Linked DNA regions of Homo sapiens: all the other regions are linked to region 1. The links come from fine-mapping of genetic effects on gene expression. A gene starts in region 1. Each other region holds a variant in brackets. All regions are shown on one strand. Distances are between the middles of the regions. Region 1 holds the start of PRAG1 (PEAK1 related, kinase-activating pseudokinase 1). Region 2 overlaps PRAG1 (PEAK1 related, kinase-activating pseudokinase 1). Region 3 overlaps PRAG1 (PEAK1 related, kinase-activating pseudokinase 1). Region 4 has its middle 74 kb from the start of PRAG1.

What was found. PIP is the estimated chance that this variant, and not a neighbour inherited with it, causes the effect. A credible set is the group of variants that fine-mapping cannot tell apart.
Region 2: its variant is the best candidate, but not a certain one, in a credible set for the expression of PRAG1 in whole blood (TOPMed, PIP 0.69).
Region 3: its variant is the best candidate, but not a certain one, in a credible set for the expression of PRAG1 in monocytes (BLUEPRINT, PIP 0.72).
Region 4: its variant is the best candidate, but not a certain one, in a credible set for the expression of PRAG1 in whole blood (TOPMed, PIP 0.51).

Annotation. Positions count from the first base shown.
Region 1 is chr8:8,383,771-8,388,956 of GRCh38, forward strand. PRAG1 (PEAK1 related, kinase-activating pseudokinase 1) reads right to left here and starts at 2,669. Exons shown (of 6, transcript NM_001080826.3): 1 at 2,551-2,669. RefSeq lists a silencer at 2,372-3,051.
Region 2 is chr8:8,348,477-8,356,915 of GRCh38, forward strand. All of the region lies in intron 3 of PRAG1 (PEAK1 related, kinase-activating pseudokinase 1), which reads right to left. Among named protein-coding and RNA genes, the nearest start is that of PRAG1, 34 kb to the right of the region's middle. RefSeq lists an enhancer at 3,890-4,019. The variant G/C (reference allele first, on the strand shown) is at 4,276.
Region 3 is chr8:8,339,419-8,347,857 of GRCh38, forward strand. It overlaps PRAG1 (PEAK1 related, kinase-activating pseudokinase 1), which reads right to left. Exons shown (of 6, transcript NM_001080826.3): 4 at 60-217. Among named protein-coding and RNA genes, the nearest start is that of PRAG1, 43 kb to the right of the region's middle. The variant A/G (reference allele first, on the strand shown) is at 4,438.
Region 4 is chr8:8,309,667-8,314,666 of GRCh38, forward strand. No RefSeq gene overlaps it. Among named protein-coding and RNA genes, the nearest start is that of PRAG1, 74 kb to the right of the region's middle. The variant C/T (reference allele first, on the strand shown) is at 3,106.

The sequences.
Region 1 (5,186 bases):
AGTTCTCCAGAAGAGGTCACTGGGCTTCAACAAGCGGAGGAAATAGCCAGGTTTTGTCTTTCTCTTATAATCTCAGGCCACAGAGAACTGTAGCCTTGCTGCTAAGTTTTGGGAGGGGGAAAAAGCAGAGGAAGTATTCCAGCCTTCAGGAATAGGCAGTAGGTCCCTTCCTGGGACGCTGATGGGTGAAGACTGTCTACACCTTCTAGGCCACAGAAAGGACACTGTCCAGCCCACCTCCACTGCAGGCAGATGCTCCCATGCCTGCTCCGCGGGATGGAGGAAGACAGTTTGGAAACCAGCTCTGTGTGGGCTCTGCAAGTTCCCACAGCTCCTCCTGACACTGGGCTATCTGAGGAGGTGGGTGCCCAACCACTTCCTCAGGGTCTATCACAGATTCACAAAGCAGCAGTTCTGCTTGGCGACTTATTGCCTCCTCAACAGGCAAGTAAGAACACAAACTTGTTTTTGCGGAAGGGGTGACATTGGTATCAGAGGCCCTACTTTCTAAGATTCCCCAACCTTTGCACAGCCCTGTGCAAAGGGAGTGTGGAAGGATCTGGATTGCTAGCGTGGGGGAAGTTTCCTTGAGAATGTCTCATCAGTTTACGAGCACTCTTTGCTCCCATTCTCAGCTCAGAAATCCTTGGATGTTTAGAGAGGCAACTTTCATCACACGACTGCCAGGGACGGATGGACGCAAAGATTTTTAAAGGGAAGTCATTGAATAAGAAAAGAACAAATGAAGCCCTGGGCTTCCCACTGTCATTGACTCACTGCATCCTGTTAAAACTGGTTTCTCAGTCGCAGCAAACAGAATTTACCACCGCATGCAGCCAAAAAAAAAAAAAAAAAAAAAAAACCTCTTTTCCCGTTGCACTTCTGTGCCTGGAATTATCTCCTATTTGTTTTAAGTAAAAGATGGTGAGAAACACAAGTGGCACCCACAAAGCCTTGCCTCGCCTTGCCTGGTGCAGCAGTGCCAGCTCTCCACAGCATGGGGAAGGCACTTCGCAGCCCACATTCCTTACTTCTGAGGGGAGGCAGCCCCCAGAATTATGCAAATCCTCCCCATTTCAGTAGGAGGCTGCAGTGTCAGATTAGAAAAAAGAGCTCAGCATTCTTTCTGATCCAAGTCATGAAAAAAATGTCTTTGCCTCTGCAAACTTCTGCACTAGATTTGTGGCTACAGTTTGCAAGACTGAAGCTGTCAGATACACTCCCACCCCATTTCAAAAAAGAATCTGAAGAATCAAGGTGGCCAGATCTTTAAGATTAAATATTTTGGCCCAAAATACCCCCTCAGACTTACATCAGAAGTTGCTTATGCCTTATTCTGAAGTGACAGAATTGCAGAAAACATTCACCTAAAATTTTTTTCTGTATGTTACAGTTAAATTAATGCAACGCCAGTAAAAGGAAAGAAATATGTGTGGAAAGTGTCTGAACTTCAGCACACTCCACTGGCCAGGGCTGACCAGGCAGAAAGGAGAAAGTGACAACTTTACCACCCACTAGCCCCCTGCCTCCCTACTCACGCAGAGGGTAAATTACGATATTCACCCAACTTTTCCTTTTCTTTTTTCTTCCTCCAGTGCTGGAGGAAAGAAAATCTCAGAGGGAGGAATGTGGTTTTGCACCCACTACAGTCGAAACCAACCAGACCTCAGGAGAGAAAAATAACTGCGGAATTCCCTAGGGCTTTCTGTCAAATTTTCTTCTCAGAAAGGGAAGGGGAGAGGAGTTGTTAAGAATAGTTCAGGCCAGTGATCAGGAAAGCCTTCTGAGCCTGACTCCGCACTGAATGCATCGCCAAAACTCCTCGCCCCTAGACCATTGGGCTTTGCTATCGGCTCTGCAAAACCATGTGCAGGGAGAGCTTACCTGAGAGAAACGCACACACCGTGAGCTGGCGCTCTCCGCTGCGAATGCCCGGCCGCCTCCATGCCCAGCAGAGGATTCTATGTTCTAAGTGTGTGTGTCCCCGGATACCAGCAAAGGTTAATAACGTGCTCACAGCATGCGTTTCAGAGGGCTCAGCCAGGGCTCGGGGAAAAGGGCATCATCTCGTTGCCTCTGGAGCCCCGCTGCTGCATACCCTGCACCCCCAAACCATCCCCCCGGGTCCTGGTCCCAGCAGCCAGGCGGCCTTCCGTCTCTCCCCCTTGACAATACTCTAGCGGTGGAAAGCAGTCCTCAAAGCGCTTCAGCCTCCGGCCGCAGACAGAGCAGCAAGACCAGAGAAACCATCCTAACAGTCGGTCCTCCCTCCTGGAACTCGTAGGAAAGTTTCCCCGTTTTAAAGAGCGCGATTCTCGAATGAATCAAAAACACCCTCCAGCTCCTCGGTCCTCCCGGCCGGGCGCCTCCCTGCACCTCGGGCACCACCCGGGGCTCACGCGGCCCCGGCACTGCCCACTTCCCGAGCGGTCGCCTGTCACCCCGGGGGTAGCCCGCTCGGCGATCGCAGCGCCCCTCCAAAGCTCCCCTCTGCGACCACGCTCGCCAGACAAAAAGAGGCCGAATTTGGAGAGCGCGTCGCGGGCTCACCTCTGGGCTGCGCTCCCCCGGCCCCTCCGTCGGTCTCCGAGCCGCCAGCCGCCCGGCCGGAGCATTGTTCGCAGAAGGTCTGCGCGCGGTGCGTGCCCGGCCGCGGGCGGGTGGCTTCTGCCTGGGCCCGGCGGCCGGGTGGCAGCTGTGAGCGCGGCTCCGCCCCCTCCGCCTCCGGTGACGCCGCCCGCCCCAGCTCACGCCGCACCTCCGCAGTCCCTGCCGCCGCCCGGCCCCGCCTGGCCCGCGCGCCCCGCCGCCCGGCTTGCGCCTGCCGCTCCCACCCGGCGGTCTCCTACCCCCAGGGCCCCGACTCCTCCAAAGTCTCCAGGCCCCGGGACTCCCTCTCTTGCCCACCCTCCCGCCCCGGACCGGCAGGCTCCGCCCCCAGCCCCAGACTTGGCGCGGGCTGACCCCCGAGCCCAGCACCCGTTTGCACCCCCTCCTCGGTGGGGACCCTGCACAGCTCTGGAGGGGCGAGCTCTGGCGTTGCAATCCTCCTTTTGCCATCATGCGTGTATAGGTGCCCGGCATCACTTCATCCAGCCGGCCCTGCGGGACCCTGGGAAGAGAGGGAGAAGGAAGGGGAAACGAGGAAGTGTGGGGTCGGGAGTGGAATACAGGTCAGGGTCCGAGGCGGGCTCTGAAAGCCACGTGAGCACAGCGAGCCTCAGCTCTCCCTACCTCTGGGAAGAGGGTGGCGCCGGAGGGAGCAGGGCTGGAAGTCCCGGTGGCGGATTCCAGGTTCCGCTCAGTCCCTGGACTGCAGGATTCTGGCAAATTGCTTAACCTCTTTGAACTTTAGTTTTCTGGATGTAGAATGCAAGCGTTGCACTGCAGGGACCTGGCCTTCTACCATGCTGGGACATCCAAGTCTTCCGCAGGCCAGTAATACACCTGTGTTTACACCGTTTCCAGTGAGTCATTCACTGAGATAGAACGAGTTCGAGATAGTCCTCGGGCTAAAAAAATCTTTTCACTGGGAGTATAATAGCTTAAGACCCAGTCAGTCCTGTAGCTTGACCTGGGTGTTTACTCGGGGAGCCAGGGCTATGGTCACCTCCCAGGGCCATGCCGGGTGGGAAGAATTCAGTGAAATGGAATAGGAAGAGGACCCCCCTCCCCCACAAAACAATACCTGCGGCTTCTCTCGCCCTCTATCCCCTCCCCAGGAAGGCAGTTTATTTTGACTCCAGTGAAGGTCCTCTGCCAGTCAGCCTGCGAGCCCCCACCCACTGAGAGGAGGAAGATGGGCCCCCACCCCCACCCCCAGATCCCTGGCTCTCCTCTTTGCTGCTGTGGGTGTGGACAGAGAGGGAAGATGTGTATTTGAGGTTTGGCTTCTGTGTGAGGAAAGGGAAAAAAGGATCCAGGGAATTCTTCCTCATGTTCCAGTGACACCCATGCCTCCTAAGAGGACAGAATCTGGGGGAAGCTGTAGAGGGATGGGAGTGCAATGGACATTCCTTAAGGACCTACCCAGCGCTAAGCAATCCTATGAGGAGAGCATCATTATCCCCATTCTACAGATAAGAAAACTGAGGCTCGGGGGCCTCACAATTTGCTGGGGTTCCTCAGCTGAAAAGTGGTAGTACTAAGATTGGAACCAAAGGCTGTCTGGCTTCGCTGGTAGGCAAGTCTACTCTGCCACTCTGCCCTTGCCAAGTGCAGGTAGTCCAGCCCTATTTTTCTCTCTCCCCTAAGTGGAGAGAAATCATTTGAACAAATACTGGCCGTGCGCGGTGGCTCACACCTGTAATCCCAGCATTTTGGGAGGCCGAGGCTGGCAGATCACCTGAGGCCAGGAGTTCAAGAACAGCCTGGGCAATGTGGTATAACCTCATCTCTACTAAAAATACAAAAATTAGTCGAGTGTGGTGGTGGGCGCCTGTAATCCCGGCTACTCAGGAGGCTGAGGCAGGAGACTCACATGAGCCAGGGAGGTGGAGGTTGCAGTGAGCTGAGATCGCACCACTACACTCCAGCTTGGGTATCAGAGCAAGACCCTGTCTCAAAAAAAAAAAAAAAAAAAAAAGGAAGGGAAACTTTGGTTACACTTCATGAGCATCCAACAGAGCTGAAAGATCCAGACCCTACCAAGACTCAAGAGGGGAAGATGTTGATTAAACAGGTAGGTACAAAGTGGTCTGCAATGGAGAAATACAAAAGTGACTTCAGAAAGTGTGCAATTCATTTACACTGGGAGAGGGCAAACTAAGATGTTTGAGAAGTTCCTGGTTCTCAGGATTCAGGCTAAATGTTTCACTTCTTTCCTCTGTAAGAGAGACATTGACCTCACAGAATAAAGGCTGTGCTGAACACATAAAAGAAGCACTTACTTTTGCACTTTATTTTCTTCTCTTTACCTAACTTATTCTTTTTTTTTTTTTTCCTGGGATGGAGTTTCATCTTTCAATCAGGCTGGAGTGAAGTGGCAAGATCTTGTCTCACTGCAGCCTCCACTCCCCGGGTTCAAGCCATTCTCCTGCCTCAGCCTCCTGAGTAGCTGGGATTGCAGGCGGCCACCACCATGCCCTGCTAATTTTTCTATTTTTAGTAGAGACAGCATTTCACCATGTTGGGCCAGGCTGGTCTTGAACTCCTGACCTCAAGTTATCTGCCTGCCTCGGCCTCCC
Region 2 (8,439 bases), 34 kb before region 1:
GGTTTAGAAAACAAAGTATCATCATTTTGGTTAACATACTGCTATTTCCCCTCCTAAATCCTCTGTTCCAAGCAGGCTCGTCTTTGTCCTCTGATTGTCTCCAAAGCACCAAAGTGCTCCTTCTCTTCTCCTAACTGTGGCTCAGAGGAAATGCTCCTCTCTCCCTTTCAAACCATCTCCATCCTCAAAACCCAGCATCAGTTTCACTTACCTACAAATTCCTCCCAAACTATTTCAGTCTTCTCTGACCCTTCTCATCCTTCTGTAACTGACACTGCACTGAGTCTGAATCACATCACTGAGAATTTGGTTATAATCCTGGTTACATTTTTCTAATTGTTTGATGTGAAATAGGCTTGTAACCGTTCCAAAATTATAAATGGTTTGAGGAGCTGTGTCACAGTTGAGACGTGCTGGAACACAGAGTCATTATTAAACAGTTCTTGATTAAGTTTATCTGCCTCTGTTTTGAGGCCACAGTGGCATCTGGGAGAATAAATGTTTCCTTTAAGAAAGAATTACACTTGCCCAGCAAAACTTGCAAAAGGCAGGAACACAGAGCAACTGATAACCATCAAGAATACCAGATTCAATAGCTGAAACTTTCTCATATCTACTAGGTTGGTGCAAAAGTAATTGTGGTTTTTGCCATTAGTACAAAATACACCTGTTCTAAAATATTCTGAATTTTCACAAATCTTGTAGTTTTTAAATGCTTTTTTATCCAGAAGATAGGAGGAGAAAGGCAGATAACTAAGCTAGGGAGGTTTCTATTATTTATCTATCTATCTATTTATTTATTTATTTATTTATTTATTTTTTGAGACAGAGTCTCGCTCTGTCACCCAGGCTGGAGTGCAGTGGCATCATCTCGCCTCACTGCAAGATCTGCCTCCCGGGTTCACGCCATTCTCCTGTCTCAGCCTCCTGAGTAGCTGGTACTACAGGCGCCCGCCACCTCGCCAGGCTAATTTTTTTTATATTTTTAGTAGAGACGGGGTTTCACTGTGTTAGCCAGGATGGTCTCGATCTCCTGACCTCGTGATCCACCTGCCTCGGCCTCCCAAAGTGCTGGGATTACAGGCCTGAGCCACCGCGCCCGGCCGGTTTCTATTATTTTTATCGTTGGAGCTTTTTGATGAAGATGCTAAGGGAGCTATTTTGCAAATGCCTAAATGCCAGCTGAAAAAACTGATAGGGCCAATCTTCTCTGGGGGCATGTTTTCCACCCGCTGATTTATTAGGATGCATAAATATAGGAAATCAGTTTCATCTTTGGTCAGATGACCTCTGTGGTCCCCATGGTGCAGGCCTGTTAATTTGCATTTTCAGTTAATGCACTAGTGACTCTTCTGGAGCTCTACAAGTTTAAAAGCCCTTTGTTTTAACTTCATATTCAGTAGAAACCATTTAACACAGGATAAACTCATAGTTACATTAAAAGATAGGAAAATACACACACACACACACACACACACACACACATACCACACAAACACACATACATGCACACACACACACATTTCGGTTACTAGTTGGTTTCAGTCAAGGATAAAAATTCTTAAATTGGTCAGATGGAAGTGTACCCTGATTATATACAGATATACTTTAGCATGAGAGATAGAAACATTTTTTTAAAGATGACAATTCAGATTTCAGAAAAGCAAGTCTTTTATTTGTGGCCCCAGCCTACACAGTTGTGGACTTTTCCAAAGAAGTGCTGGGCTGCCTGGTGCAGGAGTGAGGATGGCAGATGTTTGGGGGTATCCAGGTGCGGAGGTTTCAGCTGAGGCTGCAGACAGGGAGATGGAGCTGCTGATGAGCAGGTAAGAGAGTGATGAAGAACTCATAGCTTGGCTCCATCACCCCTGTACACTACACTTTCATCTCTAAAATGATCACCTAAGAACAACGTGTTCCAACTCATGGCCTGGAAAGTCAAGGAGGAAACTCACATCTGTTCACACAAGAGGAGCAGATGGGAAGAAAAGGAGATGAAAAGAGAAAAAGTGGGAACTAACAAGAGAGTAACTGCATTCCACAAAAGGGCCTCTCCTACCAGCTGCCTTGCCTATAGGCAAGCACAGTATCCCAGGGCCCTCAGGAGCTACTGGGAAGAACAATGATGCTAGCAGTTGAATAACTTCCTAGACGGATTTCAGAGTCACCAAGGATGGCCAATGATGTGGTGGTTAAGAGCATGAACACTGGTGCTTCACGGCCTGGGTTCGGGTCCTGACTCAATGCTTACTGGCTGTGTGTTTTGGAAAAGGCCCTTAATCTCTCTCTGTTTCAGCTTCCCATCTATAAAATGTGGATAATGACAATACATACCTCATGCAGTTATTAGAAAGATTCAATGAGTTATTATTTATAAACTGCTCAAAACAGCACCATGTACATAGAAAGTGCTCGTTAAATGGATGGATGGATGGATGGATGGATGGATGGATGGATGGATGGATGGGTGCATGGATGGATGGATGAATAGATCAATGGATGGATAAACAGGCAAACAGAGGACTTCTGCAGTCTCCAGTATACTGAGTGTATTAGTTAGTTCTCTATTGCTATAAAGAAATACCTGGGACTGGGTAATGTATAAAGAAAAGAGGTTTAATTGCCTCATGGTTCCACAGGCTGTGCAGGAAGCAAGATGTTGGCGTATGGTGGGCTTCTGGGTAGGCCTCATGAAATTTAAAAACATGGCAGAAGGCAAATGGGGAGTCAGCACTTCACATGGCAAGAGTAGGAGGAAGAGAGTGAGGGAGGTGCCACACACTCTTTTGAACAACCATATCTCATGAGAACCCTATCATGAGAACAGCACCAAAGGGGGAAATTCGCTCCCATGGTCGAATCACCTCCCACCAGACCCCATCTCCAATATTCGGGATTATAATTCAACATGAGATTTAGGTGGGGACACAGATCCAAACCATATGACTGAGTAATTCTTTTTGCTATCGACAGAAGCAGAAATCTTCAGATAGTCTAGAGGTTCACCCTACTTTGATGTCTCTACTCTTACTACAACATTTAAAAGATCTGCAAGGAAAGATAAATAGAATGATGCTTTGAGGACATGCATTATTCTAAAATCATGAGAAAGAGTTGATTTGTCCATTGACCAGACCTCATTTTGAATTTGTGTGTTCAAGAACTAGATAATTTATAGTATAGCCCCAGATCCAGGAGGTGACATATTCCTCAGCTAATCAGGTTGCTTAGCTCTATCACTTCGCTTTCAGTATATAAAGATCTAGAAAGAGAACAACCTATTTTATTACATCAGCCTGCCTTCCCCTTGCAAAAAAGAATCTCCCATGAGTACCCTTAGCCTCCTAGAACTTTCCTTTCTCCCTTCACACCATCTCCTCATCCCCCAGCACACATCTACCTCTGGTGTTTGGTTAAACAAAAACACTAGTGAGTTGTTACCCACTTGGGAGTCACTGCAGTTCTGGGCTTGATCGAATCCTATTGAAATCCCACCAAGATCACCTGTGCCTGACCAGAATCTTTGTGTTTCTAGACTAATGGTTTTGGTGACCTTGCTTTCAGAATTCTCAGACCCTAATTTTCTTGATTTGGTGAATATTTCAAATTCACTTTGTTGAACCAGCTTCAGTGTATTTTATACTAGACTTCATTTCTACCCTTCTAGCTTGAGAGGTTATTTGGACCAAAGCTCTTAGGATGAGCTACTTCCCCATTCTTCACGCTGGGGCAGCCTTTTGCCCAATAAGGAGCAGACACCATCACAGGTTCTCTCCACACTCCCTGATCAATTCTTCACTCTCTTATCTGCATCTCAACAGGTCCAGCTCTCTGTCTTCAGACTCAGTTGACCTCCCCATTCTGGATATCCCCAAGCATTTTCCATCCTCATTCCTGTACCAGGCAGCCCAGTGCTTCTCCAGGAAAAAGTCCACAACTATGCAGGTTGGGGCCACAGTTAATTCATACTACCTCTCAGGGCTCCCTGGTAATGCTTGTACTTGACCCAAATCAGCTGTTCCAAGCATTCATCACTTTTATTCATCTTCTTAGTCACCATACTCATCTCTCTCAAGTAAGTCCTCTATTTCTCCATGACTCACAGTTTCTCTTCCTGTTAGTTCTTAAGTGCAGAGAAGTGAGATGACCATATGCCTAATTAATGACACATTTTTACATTGGTCTGCATTATTTTAGTTTTTCCCTTCATCTCTACCTCTACTCTAATTTGCCACTTTCCCAATATCTCACTTCTAGGTATACACACTATATTTG[G/C]TATACCTGTATGTTTGTTTTATATCTTGAGTTTTTCTTTGAATAAAGATTTTGTACTTGCTTACAAAAAATCCATTTTAGCTTTAAGGGCATACATAAGCTGAAGGTGAAGGGAAGGAAGAAGATATTCCATGCAAATAATAACCAAAAGAGAGCAGAGATGGCAATACTTATATGAGATAAAATAGACTCCAAGTCAAAAATGGTTACAAGAGACAAAGAAGGGGATCATTTAATAATAAAGGGGGTGATTTATCAAGAGGACACAACAATTGTAAATACATATGTACAAACATTAAAGTATCTAAATATAAAAAGCAAATATTAATGAACATAAAAGAAGAAATAGATAGCAGTATAATTATAGTAGGAGACTTCAACACCTCATTTTCAACAATGTGATAGATCAACCAGACAGAAAATTAATAAATACTGAACTGGAATTAAGCTTTAGACCAAATGGACCTAAAAAGCATATATAGAACTTTCCATATAACAGCAGCATTCTTCTCTAGCACACATGGAACTTTTTCCAGGATAGACCACATGTTGGGCCATAAAACAAGTCTTATAAATTCAGGAAAATTGAAATCATATCTAGTATTGTTTCCAACCACAACAGTGTGAAATTAGAACACAATAATATGAGGAATTTTGTAAAATTAACAGATATGTAATAATGAAACAACATGCTCCCAAAACAACCAGTAGTTAAAGAAAAAAATCACAGAAATTAAAAAATTATCTTGAGAAAAATGACAATAGAAATACAATATATCAAAATGTATAAGATGCAGAAAAAGTAGTTCTAAGAGGAAATTTTATAGCAATAAATGCCTTCATTAAAAAAGAAAGATCCCAAATAAATAGTATAACATTATATACCTCAAAGAAGTAGAAAAAGGACAAAACCACGTGTGGCGCTTATGCCCATAATCCCAGTACTTTGGGAGGCCAAGGCTGAAAGACTGTTTGAGCCTAGGAGTTTGAGTCTGCGGTAAGCTATGATTGATCCACTGCACTCTAGCCTGAGTGACAGAGTGAGGCCCTGTTTCAAAAGAGAAGAAGATGAAGAAAAAGAAGAAGAAGAAGATAAAGAAGTAGTAGTAGTAGTAGTGGTAGTAGTAGAAGAGGAAGAGGAAGACCACCCATTGCACAAGGGAGGAAATAATAAAGATTAGAACAAAAATAAATAAAATAAAGAACAGAAAAGCCACATAAGGAAAAAAAAAGTCAATAGAACTGAGAATTGGTTCTTTGAAAAAAACAAGCAAAATCAACAAACCCCTAGATAGACTAAGAAAATAAGGAAAGAAGACTCAAATAAAATCAGAAATGAAAGTGGGGACATTGTAACAGATGTCTCAGAAATAAAAATGATCATAAGGGACTATTATGAACAATTATATGCCAACAAATTGGATGACAGAGAGAAAATGGATAAATTCCTAGATTCAATATTGAATCAGGAAGAAATAAAAAGCTTGAACAGACCAGTAACAAATAAAGAGATTGAAGAAGTAATTAAAAACGTTCCAACGAAGAAAACCCCAGGACCAGATGGCTTCACAGCTGAATTCTGCCAAACATTCAAAGAACAATTATTACCAATACTTCTTAAATTCTTCCAAAAAAAAAAAATAATAATAAAGCTAGAGGGAATACTTCCAAAAACTTTTTATGAGGCCAGCATCACCTTGATACTGAAGCTTGACAAAGATACCACAAGAAAAGAAAAAGTACAGGCCAATATTGCTGATGAATATTAATTCAATTCTCAATAAAGTATTGCAGACTGAATTCAACAATACATTCAAAAGATTACGTAATGTGACCAGTGGGATTTATCCTTGGCATGCAAGGCTGGTTTGGCATATACAAATAAATCATTGTAATATGTCACATTAACAGAATGAAAGATAGAAACCACATCTAAATTGACATAGAAAAAGCATTTGACAAGGTACAGCATCCTTTCTTGATAAAAACTCTTAACAGCTTGGGTATAAAAGAAAAGTTCCTCAACATAATAAAGGCCATTTATGAAAAACTCACAGCTAATATCATAATCAATGGGGAACAACTAAATGTTTTTCCATTAAGATCCAGTAGTAGGCAAATAAATCCACTTCTGCCACTTCATATTCATCATTGTACTGGAGGTACTAGCAAGGGCAATCAGACAAGAAAAAGAAATAAAAGGCATCCAAACAAAAAAAGGAAGAAGTAAAATTATCCGTATTTACAGATGACATAATCTTGTATGTGGAAAATCCCAAGAATTCCACCAAAAAAAGAACTAAAATGAATTCGGTAAAGTTGCAGGATAGAAGATCTACACACAAAAACCAGTAGCATTTCCACATACAAAAAAACAATCCAGGTGAAAAAACAAAAATCAAGAAAACAATCCAACTTACAATGGCATAAAAAATTAGGAATAAATTTAAACAATGAGGTGAAAGATATGTATACTGAAAACTATAAAACATTAAATGCAAGAAATTGAAGAGGACATAATTAAATGCAAATATATACCATGTTCATGGATCAGAAGAATTAATATTGTTGAAATGTCCACACCACCAAAAGTGATATACAGATTTAATGCAATCTCTATCAAAATTCCAAAGGCATTGTTCACAGAAATAGAAAAAACAATCCTAAAATTCATATGGAATGACAAAAAAAACCCTTCAAATAGTCAAAGCAATATTGAGAAAGAAAAAAGGAAAGATGAATTTGGAGCCTTCATACGTCCCGATTTTAAATTATATTACAAAGCTATAGTAATCAGAAAAGAATATGGTAGTGGCATAAAACCAGAAGCATAGAGCAATAAAACAGAATACAGAGCTCAGAAATTGATCCAGACATACATGGTCAACTAGTTTTTGACAAGAGCATCAAAAGGGCACCATAGAAAAGATAGTCTCTTTAATAAATGGTGCTGGGAAAACTGTATCTCCACATGAAACAGAATGAAACTGAACCCTTATCTTATATCATACACAAACATAAACTCAAAATGGATAGAAGGCCTAAATGTAGGACCTGAAGTCATAAAACTATGAGAAAAGAACATAGGAAAATCTATTTGATATTGGCCTTGGAAATGATTTTTTGGATATCGCACCAAAAGCTCAGACTACAAAAGCAAAAATAAATAAATGGAACTACATCAAACAGAAAACCTTCTGCACAGCAAAGGAAACAATCAACAAAATGAAAAGGCAACTTAGGAACTGGGAAAAAATGTTTGCAAACCACGTGTCTGATAAGACGTTAATGTCCAAAACTTATGAAGAATTCTTACAACTCAATAGCAGAGCAATAAGTAACCATACTAAAATATGGGCAAAGGATCTGAACAGACATTTATCTGAAGACATAAAACTCACCAACAGATAAATGAAAAGGTGTTCAACATCACTAATCAGGGAAATGCAAATTTAAACCACTGTGAGATATCACCTAGCACTCATTAAGATGGCTGTTATCAATATGAAAGACAACAAATGTGGGTGAGGGTGTGAAGAAAAGAGAACACTAGTGCATTTTTGGTGGAAATGTAAATCATTATGAAAACTATAGAGGTTTTTGTTTTGTTTTGAGACAGGGTCTCACTCTGTCACCTAGGCTGGAGTGCAGTGGTGCAATCATGGCTCACCACAGCCTTGACCTCTTGGGTTCAAGTGATCCTCCTGCCTCAGCCTCCCAAGTAGCTGTTACTACAGGCATGTGCCACTGTGCCCAGCTAATTTTTTTGTATTTTTTGTAGAGATGAGGTTTCATTATGTTTCCCAGACTGGGCTCGAACTCCTGGGTTCAATAAATTTGCCCATCTCAGCCTTCCAAAGTGCTGGGATTTCAGGCTTGAACCACCACGACTGGCCTAGAGGTTCTCAGTGGCATTTTTTGCAGAAATAAAAGATACATCCTAAAATTCATATAAAACCTCAACATATCCTAATAGCCAAAACAATCTAGAAAAAGAACAAAGTTGGAGGTCTCACACTTCCTGATTTCAAAACTGATACAAAACTACAGTAATTTAAAAAGTGGAGTACTAGCATATAGACATATAGACTAATGTAATAGACTAGAACGTCCAGAAACAAACCCTCATGTATACGGTCAAATGATTTTCAACAGGAGTGCCAA
Region 3 (8,439 bases), 43 kb before region 1:
GGACTGGTCTTGAAGGTCCAGGAGAATCTAAGCCTCTCCGTCAATGTCAAGTTTGTTACCTCCATCGCTGCAGGTCCTAGAGTCTGAGGCCAGGCTGTCCGTGGAGCCGGTGGTGAAGCTGACGTGGACACCCCTGAAGGATGGGCTGAGGCTTTCTGCAGAGCCCTGGCTCACTTTTTCCAAATCAGAGCTGCTCTTGTTCATTTTTAGAAGGTGCCTGGAAAAGGTAGGAACAAACAATACAAATAACTCATTGGATTTCCATTCAGAAACCAGGCTGATGGATCATGAACTTACCATGCTCTTGAAACCTGGCCAATGTCAGCAAGTTTATTAAAAGAAAAAAAAAAGATTTTGGGGAGACAGTAGAGGTTCTCTTCTGAGTTCTTATGTGCATGAATGACAGGAGACTTCCAGAGTGTGGTTAGGAGAAGCGAGTCTATTAAATTTAAACAAGCACCAAAATTCTTACATGGAAGGAATTGCCTTCATATTCTGACCCCATCTGCCAAAACAGTTGTGTCACTTATTATATCCTGTGTAAAATCTCTACAAAGAAAAATAAAGATATTATCATACACACCAATGTATAGAGACATACAGATATTGGGTTGTTTTTGCAAGATCCCAGGACAAATGAATTGCAAACTAGGCCTTTACAAGTGGGATTTCTTTTTTTACCTGGTACTCTTTTGCCAAAGCTTCAAAGGGTCTAGATTGTTTCTTGGAATTAAGGAAAACTTTAAATGTGAACCAGACTTCCAGTGACATGCTTAGATAGAAACAAATTGACATAACCCTTATTCCAGAACAATGGAACCAACCTTTTGCTTTTCTGTGAAATCTTTTGTTGCATCTCTAAATAGCATCACCAACAGATCAAGGACAGAAATACCAACTTCAAGAGAAAAACACTCACATTGGAGAAAACAGTTCTATTATTAGGTTGGGTGTTTAGCTTATTGATTTCTCCTTCCCACTTTCCAAGGGCCACATGAATATTCATTTCTGATCTGACATTCTCACCATGAAGGGAGACAGATCCACACCAGGTCCAGCTCTTCCCCTGCTGGTGGAAACCCACATTTGTCTGAACTGATATTTCCTGATGACATTCCTGTTCCTTCTACGGCAGATCCATATCTCAATATCTGCTATGGGAAATATACAGTACAGTACTGATTTGGCATCAGAACTGCCTTATTTAATGCGCATGACCTTACGGTCAAGAATTTATTGGCTGTTCTTTGTGTTCAACATTGCCAGGCCCTGTTTTAATTTTCATAGTCACGGGAATCCCCTGTGTATCAACAGGAGGGTTTAAAGTTTGTTCGCTACCACAAAAAGTGCTCCTTGAAAACACGTCCCTCTCCCCACTCCCAACCCTTAGAATCGTACTTTTAAACTGTGTTAAATCTGTCAAAAAAAAAAATGTGACAGTGAAGGCAACATTATGACTAATCTTCATCTTTGTATCTCAGTATCGCTGTGGGAACCTTGGAAATATCAATTCCTTAGGAAATGCTATGGCAGTAGCTGATCCTTGCCTAATCTCCTGGCAAAATAAAATCAGACAGTTTCATACAATATTCTTATATCCACATCAGATCTATCACTAATAGTTTTCTCCAAGGGAAGCCAGGATATGAAGTCATGCATAACAACTCCTCAGTCTAGGAGAGAAGCCAGAGCCAGCTCTGTGGCTATCCCCTACTTTGCCCCTTCCAAAGTGGTTTCTAGAGTTTCTTGGTCTTCAGGCCCAGAAAATCACTAAGGGAGAAACTACAGCACCATGGCTACAGAGCTGGCACAGCTTCCCACTCCACAAACTTCATGAAATGTATGTAAATAGACAAAACCAAAAAATACATAAACATGTGTATGTATGAGCATATATATATATTCATATACATATGCACACACACACACATACTTACTTAAAGTAACAGCCAAGATTAAAAGAAAGAACAATTCTCAGGTGCCAGATACAAAGAGGGAACTCCACACACAGGCAGTACAAGGGATCCTTCAATACTAAGCGTATATTTACTACAGATTTCAGTAGACGCACTTTATCAGGCTAAGGATGTTTATTTCTATTTCAAGTTTTCTAAGGTTTTGTATTTCAAAATCATTTTTGGCTATTAGGGTTTATTAAATGCCTTTTCTACATCTATGGGAAAAAAATCATATCATGTTTCTCCTTTACTCTGTGAATGTGATGAGTTATGTTAATAGCTTTTCTTAATTAAGCCATCCTTGCACATGTTGTATGAACTTATTTTACTACACATTGCTGGATTCAGTTTTACTCATATTTAGTTTAAGATTTTTACATTTACATTCAAATAGAGGCTAGCCCATAATTTTTCTTTCTTGTCCTGTCCTTGTCCAATTTGGATATAAAGGTTAAAATAGAATTATAAAATGACGGCCGGATACGGTGGCTCCCTCCTGTAATCCCAGCACTTTGGGAGGTCAAGGCGGGCAGATCACTTGAGGTAGGGAGTTCGAGACCGGCCTGGCCAACAGGCCAACCCCATCTCTACTAATCATACAAAAATTAGCCAGGCATAGTGGCCTGCGCCTGTAATCCCAGCTACTTGGGAGACTGAGGCAGTAGAATCGCTTGAACCAAGGAGGCGGAGGTTGCAGTGAGCCGAGATGGTGCCATTGCACTCCAGCCTGGGTGACAGAGTGAAACTGTGTCTCAAAAAAAAGAAAAGGAATTATAAAATGAATTGAGTAACTTTCACTTTTTCAATTATCTCATGTAATTTTTTTTTTTTTTTTGAGATGGAGTCTTGCTCTGTTGCCCAGGCTGGAGTGCAGTGGCACCATCTTGGCTCATGCAAGCTACGCCTCCCGGGTTCACGCCATTCTCCTGCCTCAGCCTCCCGAGTAGCTGGGACTACAGGAGGCGCCCACCACCACGCCCCGCTAATTTTTTTGTATTTTTAGTAGAGACGGGGTTTCACCGTGTTAGCCAGGATGGTCTCGACCCCCTGACCTCGTGATCTGCCCGCCTCGGCCTCCCAAAGTACTGGGATTACAGGAGTGAGCCACCGCGCCCGGCCTTATCTCAGGTAATTTTTATAAGAGAAACATTATGTGTTCTCTGAAAGATTGCGAAAACTACCCTGTAAAACCATCAAGGACCAGTTGCTGTATAAATGAGATCAGTAAAGATCTGGTTCTGATAAATCTAGGACCAACATTTCCAGGACACAGACCCAAGAAACAGACTGGAGGATTAACAAGTCAATTCATGGTACTTACACCAGCTATTTATGATGTGAAGAAAAAAAGAAAGTAGAGCCATATCTCATACCGTGTAGAAACACGAATTTTCAACAGAAAAGAAACACCCATTAAATTTTAAATTCATCAGAAAAAATAACGAGAAAACTTTATGAACTTGGGGTAGGAAATAATTTTTAAAATAAGGGCTAAAAAATAGCAATATAAAGAAAAAGATAAATCTGACTACTTTAAAATTTAAAACTTCTGCCTCATAACATAAAAGTCACCATTAAAAAGTGAAAAAAAACAAACCTTGGAGTGGCCAACTCACATCTTTGCAACCCGCATTACTAATAAAGTACTGGTAGGCAGAATAAAAAAGAGTGCCTATAAATCTAAGAAACAGACAAATGACCCCATTTTTAAAATGGAAATGAACAGGCAACTCACAAATGAAACAAGAAAGGCCACTCAACACATGAAAAGATTATTAAAATTATGAATGATCAGATTGTAAATAAAACAAGATTTCATTTCATACCCATCAGATCAGACTGACAACGTCAGATTTTGTTAAAGATATAGGGAAATAGGAACTCTCTCACACTGTTTGTGAGACTGTAGATTGGTAAACTCACACACAGGACAACAATGTGATGAATCTTGTAAAGTTAAATACACACATTCCTATAATCCAGTCACTCCATTTTTGGGTATATGTCCTTGAGCAATGTTACTTAAATAACTAGTAATGAATGAATGGCTAAGTCACTTGAGTGGGTCACTAGCAGTTTACTGACCAGCAGTTTATTTTAACAAAACAGAACAGAACAGAAAATATGAAAATACATAGAAAGGATTTGTGAAACTTTGTTTTGTAAAACTTTTGTTTCAGATGTGTGTTTGTTGGGTCATGATATTAATGTTTCTTATTGTGGGTCATGGTTTTTAAAAAAGGTTAAAAATTACTGCTCTAGAATATGAGTCAACAAACTTTTCCTTAAAGGGCCAGATGGTAAATATTTTAGGCTCGTGGACCATAAGGGTTCTGTTGCAACTACAGAACTCTGCTGTTGTAGCTGGAAAGCCACCATAGAAATTAGTGGCATGTTTTCTAATAAAGCTTTATTTACAAAAACAGATGTCTTGCATGTGGGCAATCAGTTACTGGCTGGTCTTGACCAGCCTTGTCCA[A/G]TAGAATTATAATGCAAGCCATATATGTAATTTTAAGTTTTCTGGTAACCACATTTAAAAAATGTAAAATAAATGGGAAAAAATAATTATAGTAATACATTTTATTTAACATAATGTATTCAAAATATTGTCACTTTAAGCAGTAATCAGTATAACCTATATCAATTATTAATGATATATTCCATATGTTTTTTTCATCCTAAGTCCTTAAAATGTGGCATGCATTTTATATTTACTCACATTGCAATTCTGACTAACCACATTTTAAGCTAGTGGCTACCATACTGTGCAGTACAGAGCTGGAGAAACTCTTATAAGTGGAGAAAGGTGTTCACAACGTTACAAATAGCAAATAACCTTCTAAACTGTTGAACGGTGCTTCCACAAAGGAATGAAAACATTGTGGTATAGTCTTTTGGTGGGATACTTTATAGCAGTAGAAAAAAATGAACTGGATTTTAGGGTAGCAATATGAAGAAATATTTTAAAATGCTGAGTATTAAAAGTAATTTACAAAAGGCTCAAGTAAAATGTGATGCCATTTGTATAGAGATTAAAAACATATAAGGATATATACATGTTTTACGGAGCACATAATAAAATGTAAATGATACTCATCAACTTCAAGACAGTGATTGCTCTGGGTAGCAATGGGAGGTTGAAATGGGAATTGGATAGGGAGGGATCTTCCACAGTAGCAGTAACATTTTATTTTTAAAAAATCTAAAGCAAATGGCAAAATGTTAATATTTGAAAAATCTTAGGGAACACCTGCAGGTCAGTTAAATTATTATCTGAACTTCACTGCATGCTTGGAATATTTGATACACTAAAAATGAAAATTTCTAGTGAGAAAGCAAATCACAGGGCCTGAATGAGGCAGGGGGTGGCTGCTCCTGTTGATCTGTTGTTGCGCCTCTGGAAGGCAAACAACACACAAAATAACACAGTGGGATTTCCATCAGACCCCTCAGTGGGAACAGGCAGTCTCAACGAGGGTTGGTTCCACCACAGAGCACCCCTGTGGCTGGAAACAGTTGCATCATAGACCTAACTACTCTTTTAAGACTTGGGAGTTAATTCTTCTGTCTATAGTTACTATAGCAGAAGTCACTGTTGTCAAAACTCTCATCAAGTGAATGCAGACAAAATTAGTCTATCCCTGTGATTACAGGATAAATTATCCGCAGGGTGTGTGTGTGTGTGTGTGTGTGTGTGTGTGTGTGTGTGTGTGTGTTAGGGAGGAAGGGAGCCTCCCAAAGTGGACTTTGGTAAATCTTAGTTTCTAAGCCACAAGTGGAATTTTCATGGCTTTTGGGATCTAACTGCTTCTTCTTTATTGGAAAAGCTTGAGAAATCCAGCTTCCTGCCAGGTCGCTAAAACCCAACAGGTGACCAGGCATCGTGGCCCAAGCCTGTAATCCCAGCACTTTAGGAGGCCGAGGTGGGAGGATCACTTGAGCCTGGAAGTTTGATACCAGCCTAAGCAACATAGTGAGACCCTGTCTCTACAAAAAAAAAAAAAAAGAAAGAAAGAAAGAAAAAGAAAATCAGAAATCAGTAGGCATTTGGAATGCTCAGTTGTAAATGGGGATATAACAGGTCTTCCAAAACACACGTAGGTGACCCTTTTGCTTAATAGCAAAATCTTAAGGCTGGGCACAGTGGCTCACACTTGTAATCCCAGCACTTTGGGAGGCAGAGGCGGGTGGATCACTTGAGGCCAGGAGTTCGAGACCACCCTGGCCAACATGGTGAAACCCCACCTCCACTAAAAACAAACCAAAAAATTAGCCAAGCACGGTGGTGTATGCCTGTAGTCCCAGCTACTCAGGAGACTAAGGCAGGAGAATCGCTCAAACCCGGGAGGCGGAGGTTGCAGTGAGCTGAGATGGCACCACTGCACTCCAGCCTGGGTGACAGAGCGAGACTCTGTCTCAAAAATAAAATAAAATAAAACCTTAGGACTGATGACTCTTTCTTATGAACTGCATTAAAAAGCATCCGCCCTGGAAACCTGTGCAATCTGTACTTTTTGAGAATTGCCACTTTAATTAGGGCATGAGCAAAACCACATCAAATTAAAAAATGAACAGGAAGCTTGCCATCAAAGCACAGACTTACAATCAAGTTGTTTGGGTCTTTACACTGTGTGTAAAATAGACTTCTTAAGAATCCCTGGAAAAGGCTTACTATTGCAATGATGACTTTTCTGAGCCCTAAAGGATTGTTCTATCAGATGTGAGGCCAAAAGACAATGAGTGTACTCAATGCGGTATAACAAGACTACTTAGCCTTTTTTAAAGGCACTTTTCCTTCATTAATAATAATTTGATCTGTCTTTCACAAAACTGGTGCAAACCATCTGCAAAATACTTCCATGGACAAAAACCTCATACTCCAGTCTTTTCTGTCTGTTTGGTGAATAACATTCTTATCATCTACAGTGAGAGTACAGTCTCCACAGATGTCTTCACTCACGTAGTGTGATAAAAGACATCTTGTGCTTAACCTCAAACTTCCTTTCGGCCTCCCACTGTTGATTACATACAGTCCAGGCAGGCAGGGTGAAAGGTACAGGCCAGTGGCACGGTGTCCTCAGAGCCCCAGCCCTGCAGCTGCTGCCCAGTGTTTTGAGAATAGCTTTTCCCTCCATTGTCCTTAGAGAGAGGTCTTGCCAGAGTGGTCTCCATACTATGTTGGTGGAAAGCTGGAAAAAAAGACTCCAGCCGGAAGAGCCATCTGCTAGACTTCCTCATTCGTAGGAACAAGCCTCATCTAAAAATACCCCCGAAGCTTTCAGAATGAGAGCTTTCAGAATGCCCACAATCCTTAACGGATGCGGGGCCCCAGTGTGCAGCAGAGAGTGAATCTCACACTTTCCATGGCTGTTAAAATCCTCATATGACAGCAATATTCAAAGTGTGATTGAGGCCGATTTTCATTCTCACTGCCCCTGACTTTTGTTTGGTTCACATACATTTGGCCGAGAGCTTTCTGCCACTGGAGCGGAATCTTTGAAAACCCACATATGCCAGCATGCAGTTTCAGACTGGCTCTCTAAATCCCAGCAGGCATTCACACTGCTGGCTCTTGGGATTGGTCAAATACACTAGTAAGTTTAGTAATGATCTGGAGAAGATCTAAAGGAAAGTTTTAGAGCATCAAATAAATGTTCTGAAAGCAAGAACAAGTTTTTAAACAGTCTATACATGTTTTTTCAATTACAAAGAAGAAAGGAAAAGACTGGTTTTAAACTCAAACAACCAATAATTGTCTCAAAGACTGAGAACCTCTTACCATTCTAGACTCAGGCCCGTAGTGCTGTCCTCATCAGTGAGGCCTCCCCGGCCTTGTGACTAGCTGGGACAGTGACTTCAGGTTCCCAAGGGGCAGCCCTTGGGTGTGAAGAGCCAGCTTCAGAGGCAGCCGGAATGCTTCTCCAGGCTGCTGTGAATTCACCAGCTCAGAGCTCTCTGTTTCCCCTCAGTTCCTCTCTGACTTTTCTATAAAATGCACTTCCTGCAAAAGCACAGGAAAACAGAGACGGCTCTGCCTCTCTGACCTGCAGCTTTCAATCTCCAATTGTCTTATTTGGCTCCATGATTCAAAGCAATTCAAATATGCTCTAAAATACACTAAGTTTCTCTTCATTTATTCTCTACTATTTAGCCACTTACTAAAGTCAAAATCATTAAGCAATTCGAGTTTTCTTGGTGGATAAGAACACTCTGTTTTTAACTTATCATATGCCTGTGTTACCTGCAGTGGATCTTCCTCCTTGTCTATCCTGAATACCTTTCCCAGGCTTTTCAGCATTAAGCCGACTCTGTGCCAAGCGCTGTTAGGTGTTGGGGATACAATGGTTAACAGAGCTGACAAGATCCCTGTGCTTGAACAAACCTGCAGACCTAGGAGAGAAATATTTATCAAGCTCCTCTAGTGAGAGATCAATTCACATCTTTTTTTTTTATTTTTTGAGGCAAAGTCTCACTCTGTCAC
Region 4 (5,000 bases), 74 kb before region 1:
AGACACTCTTATTCTGTCATTCATAGTTTTCCAACATTGTCATCAGACACCAAACTAAAATCTTCTGTTCAAGCAACCCAGGGAGTCTTTGAATGACAGGTCAGCGGCATTAATGAATTCCTTCCTCAGTGCTCAGCCCACAGGGATCTGTGAATGAAAATGAGACAGAGGACCCGGATGTAATGCCACTTTCCGTTTGCTAAACTGAGTAGTGTCCATTTACAGAAACACAGATACCCCGCAGAGCCCAGCTGTGGCCATTATCAGGGCTTGTATTATGCTCTTAACATCTCTGCAGGAATATTCACTGTCTGTCTCCTGCATTATTTCCTTTCCTTCCCAATAACTTTAGAGTTACCACAAGGGAAACACTCCAGACCTCACCAGGCCTGTCCAACTGAAGGTCATGATTCCAACCCTCCATCAAACTGCTACCAGAGGCCTGTGCCCCAGTGAAAAGCCGTTTTATGAGAGCACCTGTGACAGGTGTTGTTTAGAAATGGTTATCTTGGGCTGGATGTGGTGGCTCACACCTCCAATCCCAGCACTTTGGGTGATGGAGGTGGGAGGATGGCTTGAAACCAGGAGTTCTGGACCAGCCTGGGCAACTTAGTGAGACCCCCATGTCTACAAAAAATTAGTCTGGTATGGTGGCATGAACATGCAGCCCCAGCTACTTGGAAGGCTGAAGTCGGAGGATCACTTGAGCCCAGGAAGTCAAGGCTGCAGTGAGCTATGATCATACCACTGCACTCCATCTGGGCAATGGAGCAAGGCTCTATCTCAGAAAAAAAAAAATAGAAGTGAATATCCTACCAAAAGAATGAATGACTGCCATAGCCATTTAACATTGCCCTTGGTTTTCTTCATTTTGACTCTTTCTCCAATGAACTGTTGCCTTTTCAGAGATGAAACAAAGGGGGTAGTTGGGTAATAGGCCAGGGCCCAGCAGCTGGTTCCAGTGAGGCCTGTCTGCAGGATGAACGCTGTGATCAAATGTGTGACTCATAGTTGGGAGGTGTCTGCCAACCCCGGCTGCAGGGCACAGTCGGCACTGACCGGGAAGGCAGGCTGATCTGCACCCTTGTCTGCTTCCTGTGCTGGGAGCGCAGCCCCCACCCCACCTCATTCCCCCAACCCTATCTCCACATGGAATTGTTCCACTGGCTGTCACCCAGGGAGCCCCTTCTTTCTACCCATGTTCAGTTGGGTACTTGAAACAGCACATGACTCATGTTGTACTCAGCCAAGACTAACAGCATCAGGCTTCTATTGTTCAAGAGCTGACTCCAAGTTCCATGAACTATTTCAATGAGTGGAGTCCTTGTTGCTTACATTGCAGCTCTCTAAAGTCATGGAAAGAAATGACCACACTGGAGGCACAGAAAAGCCAAGGCACAGAGTAGCACAACCTTGCTCTTCCTTAAACACTATCTCTGAAAGATCATCCTGAAGCATTTTCCTTGGAGAACCGGCCATAGGCACCAGGTTGGGTTTGCCACAAGGGACCAATGCAGACCTTGTCAAAGAAGTGTTGAGTTGCAAGTGCAAAGACTAGCAGAGTCACTCCAGGGACTAGTAAGGGCCTGAGGGTGAATTTTATCATTAACTCAGGGCTCTGCTGCCAATGTTAACTGCATTTTAGAGCAAGCCTCAGGACTTCCATCTGGGAAGAAAAAGAGTCTGTATCTCCCAATGGAAATTAAATGAGTTGTCCTAAGACCAAAAACAAGGAGCAATACCAATAAGAGATCATTAAATTTTTGATGAGTTAATGCTCTCCAAGCAGTGCAAATGACGTTTTAATGCCTGGGGAAAAGGTGATGAAACCTGTCAATTCCCTAACTCAGGGGAGAAATCAAGTCACTTCTCTTTAAGAAAGTTCCGGCTGGGCACGGTGGCTCACACCTGTAATCCCAGCACTTTGGGAGGCTGAGGCGGGCAGATCACCCGAGGTTGGGAGCTCGAGACCAGCCTGACCAACATGGAGAAACCCCATCTCTACTAAAAATACAAAATAAGCCGGGTGTGGTGGCACATGCCTGTAATCCCAGCTACTCGGGAGGCTGAGGCAGGATAATTGCTTGAACCCCTGAGGCTGAGGTAGGACAATTGCTTGAACCCCAGAGAAGGGGGTTGCAGTGAGCAGAGATTGCACCATTGCACTCCAGCCTGGGCAAGAAGAGCAAAACTCTGTGTCAAAAAAATAAAAAAAAAAAAAAAAAAGAAAAGAAAAGAAAGAAAGTTCTTGTTGACATACTGCTAAGTGAGGAAAGCAAAGCGCTCTGGCATCTCAGGCATGGTAACTTCCGTGTAAGAAAGAAAGATATACTTGTATCTGCTCATTTGTGAACAAACACAGGAAGGATCAAGCAGAAACTGGTGACTTTGGTGACCACAGCGGGTGGGTGCTCACAGGGGAAAGGAGGGGAAAATGGCATGGAGGAGAAAGCATGGAGGATTGATACCTGCTCTGAGTGCTCTGAGCATCCTTTTTTTTCTTTTTTTTTAGACAGCCTTTCTCTGTCTCTCTGTTGCCCAAGCTGGAGTACAGTAGCACCATCCTAGCTCACTGCAGCTTTGATCGTTCGGGATCCAGGGATCCTCTCACCTCACTGGAGGTGAGTAGCTAGGACTACAGGTGTGTGCCACCATGCCTGGCTAATTTTTTTGTTTTTTATTTTTTTGTAGAGACAGAGTCTCCCAAAATTGCCCAGGGCTGGTCTCCAACGTCAAGCAATTCTTGGCCTCCCAAAGTGTTGGGATTATAGCTTTGGCCTTCCAAAATGCTGTTACAGGCGTGAGCCACTGTGCCCAGCCCTGAGTACACCTGTTGGATAGTTTTATCTTTGAGTGCCATGTTAGGGCTTGCCTACTCAAATAAATAAAACCAACAAAGCTGAGGGGTAGGAAAAAGAAAATCCGCTTCTCTTTTAGGAAAACCAGAACTTGCTTATGTCATTGTGGTGGTGGGAATGGCCAGTAAATAAAGGGTTTAAATAAGAGGCTCAGTTGTTAAAGTCTTTCTGACTTTTTACAGAATCTGCTGTAAGTTCTGAAATTGAACTCTACACAATCTAGAAAAGAGGAAATGGTTACAGCTTC[C/T]TCATTCCTGGAAATCTTTGAGAAAATAATGGACATACAAATGTCTGTGTAATCCTAGTAAAGGAGTGAAGGCCTGATTACCTTTTCAGGATTGTGGAAAGTCACCGGGGCTGGATCCATGCATATGATATTAAATTGGTGCAAAGGCTATTGCTGTTTTTGCATTAAAAGTAATTAAAAAGTAATGGCAAAGGCCACAATAACTTTTGCACCAACCGAATAGAGCAGGTAGTTTGTCTTCGAATCTTGTGTTCTCAATTCCCGCCTTGTCTTCTCTCCTTAGACCTCCACATTCAATTCCCTCAACCTGTCTCCATGTCTGCTTTGCCCTAATAAGGCAGTAAAGCAGAAGTCTGCAGAGTAACCTTTAAGTTTGTTACAGTGCACAAACATCTTCACAATCTCAGCCCATCTGGTGTCTAGGGCAGTATTTTTTTAGGAAATAGCTGTAATCACCTCTGGCATAGGAGCTGGAAATATTTGAGTCTAACATTTAGAATATGTGATCAATGTCTATGTTCAAACTCCCCAGGGATAATGCAATACAAAGTCAGCCTGTTGACACGCAGAAAAATCTCGAGTGAACTTGACCTTCCTTCCCCAGTTCCATAAGCTTGGCATGGATGTAGTCAACTTCTGGGAGAAAAGATCCAGATCAGACAAGACTGAGTATCCTGGATCTGGTAAGGATCCACATTGGTCACAGATGTTCTGGCCCAACCCCAGAGTCCCCTAAACCAACAATATCACTTTTGAGTGAATTTGGACTCTTTTTCTGGAACCCTAGAGTCCATCGGGTTACCTCCTGACCACTTTCCCGGGGTGCAGTTCCTCCTCCTAGGATATCTTTTACAGGGAGGTTGCCCCATTGCCTGCATTAATTAGCACTGGAAAAAAGAAAGAAAGGGTAATTGTCAAGACAATCATCCCATGGTACTTGTTCCAACCATTTTATTCTTGCTTTTTTTTTTTTTTTCAACAATGACATCAGCTGGGTTAAACTTTGATTTCTAATAAATAAATTCCATTCACATCACCATCTCTTAAAAATGGCAAGTTGGTTTTATGTTACAAATCTACTATTTTTAGTGGGATTTGGTAAGCTAATCTTTAGATCTCCAAAGGTTTTCAGATATTCAACAGAGCAGAAAAGGGCTGCTTCATTTGTTGACTGTATTTTAAGCGCAAATTTAGAACTCACTAAAGTAACATGTGTCTTCTTTTTAGAAAATCTTTATAATTATTTTATGTACACGCGTACATCTCAAAAGAGTTTTTTCAGCTCTAAGCTCTTGGAAACCATGAAGTGTTATATAAAGTGGTAACTACAGCTCCCCAAAACCAGTCTTTTCAGATCTGAGCCATATGTTATGATAAATAAATAATCCCTAAAGCGCTTATCTGGCTTCTGGCAAGGATATAACTATTTAGATATGAGGCTTTATAACGCCTACATTAAAAAAATTAGAAGAAAAACGATTCCACATCTTGGCATGAAAATGAGAATGGCTTACAAACAACAAAAATTACGTATGTGGAAAACATAATGGGGGTGACTTGACTCAGTGGGAGAGAAGAAAAACTGGAGATTTAAATACCAGTAGTTGGGTTTAGAGCCAAGAAAAATGGGAGATGAACTCACTGATAACAGGAGTATTAAATTGCCAGATCCTGCAACTGTCCTCGTACAAAAGTCCCTGATTATTTCTGAACCTCAGTCCTGCAGAACAAACTATCGTTTCTGGGCATAATGGATATCATGCTAGAGTCTTCTGTGAGACAAAGCCATGCAGCCTAGGTGTATTTTGAAGTAACAAAAAACCAGTTATATTGAACCTCTGAATTTAGTGCGAATGAAGTTGTTTGCTAAACCTAATATTTACAGCCACATGACT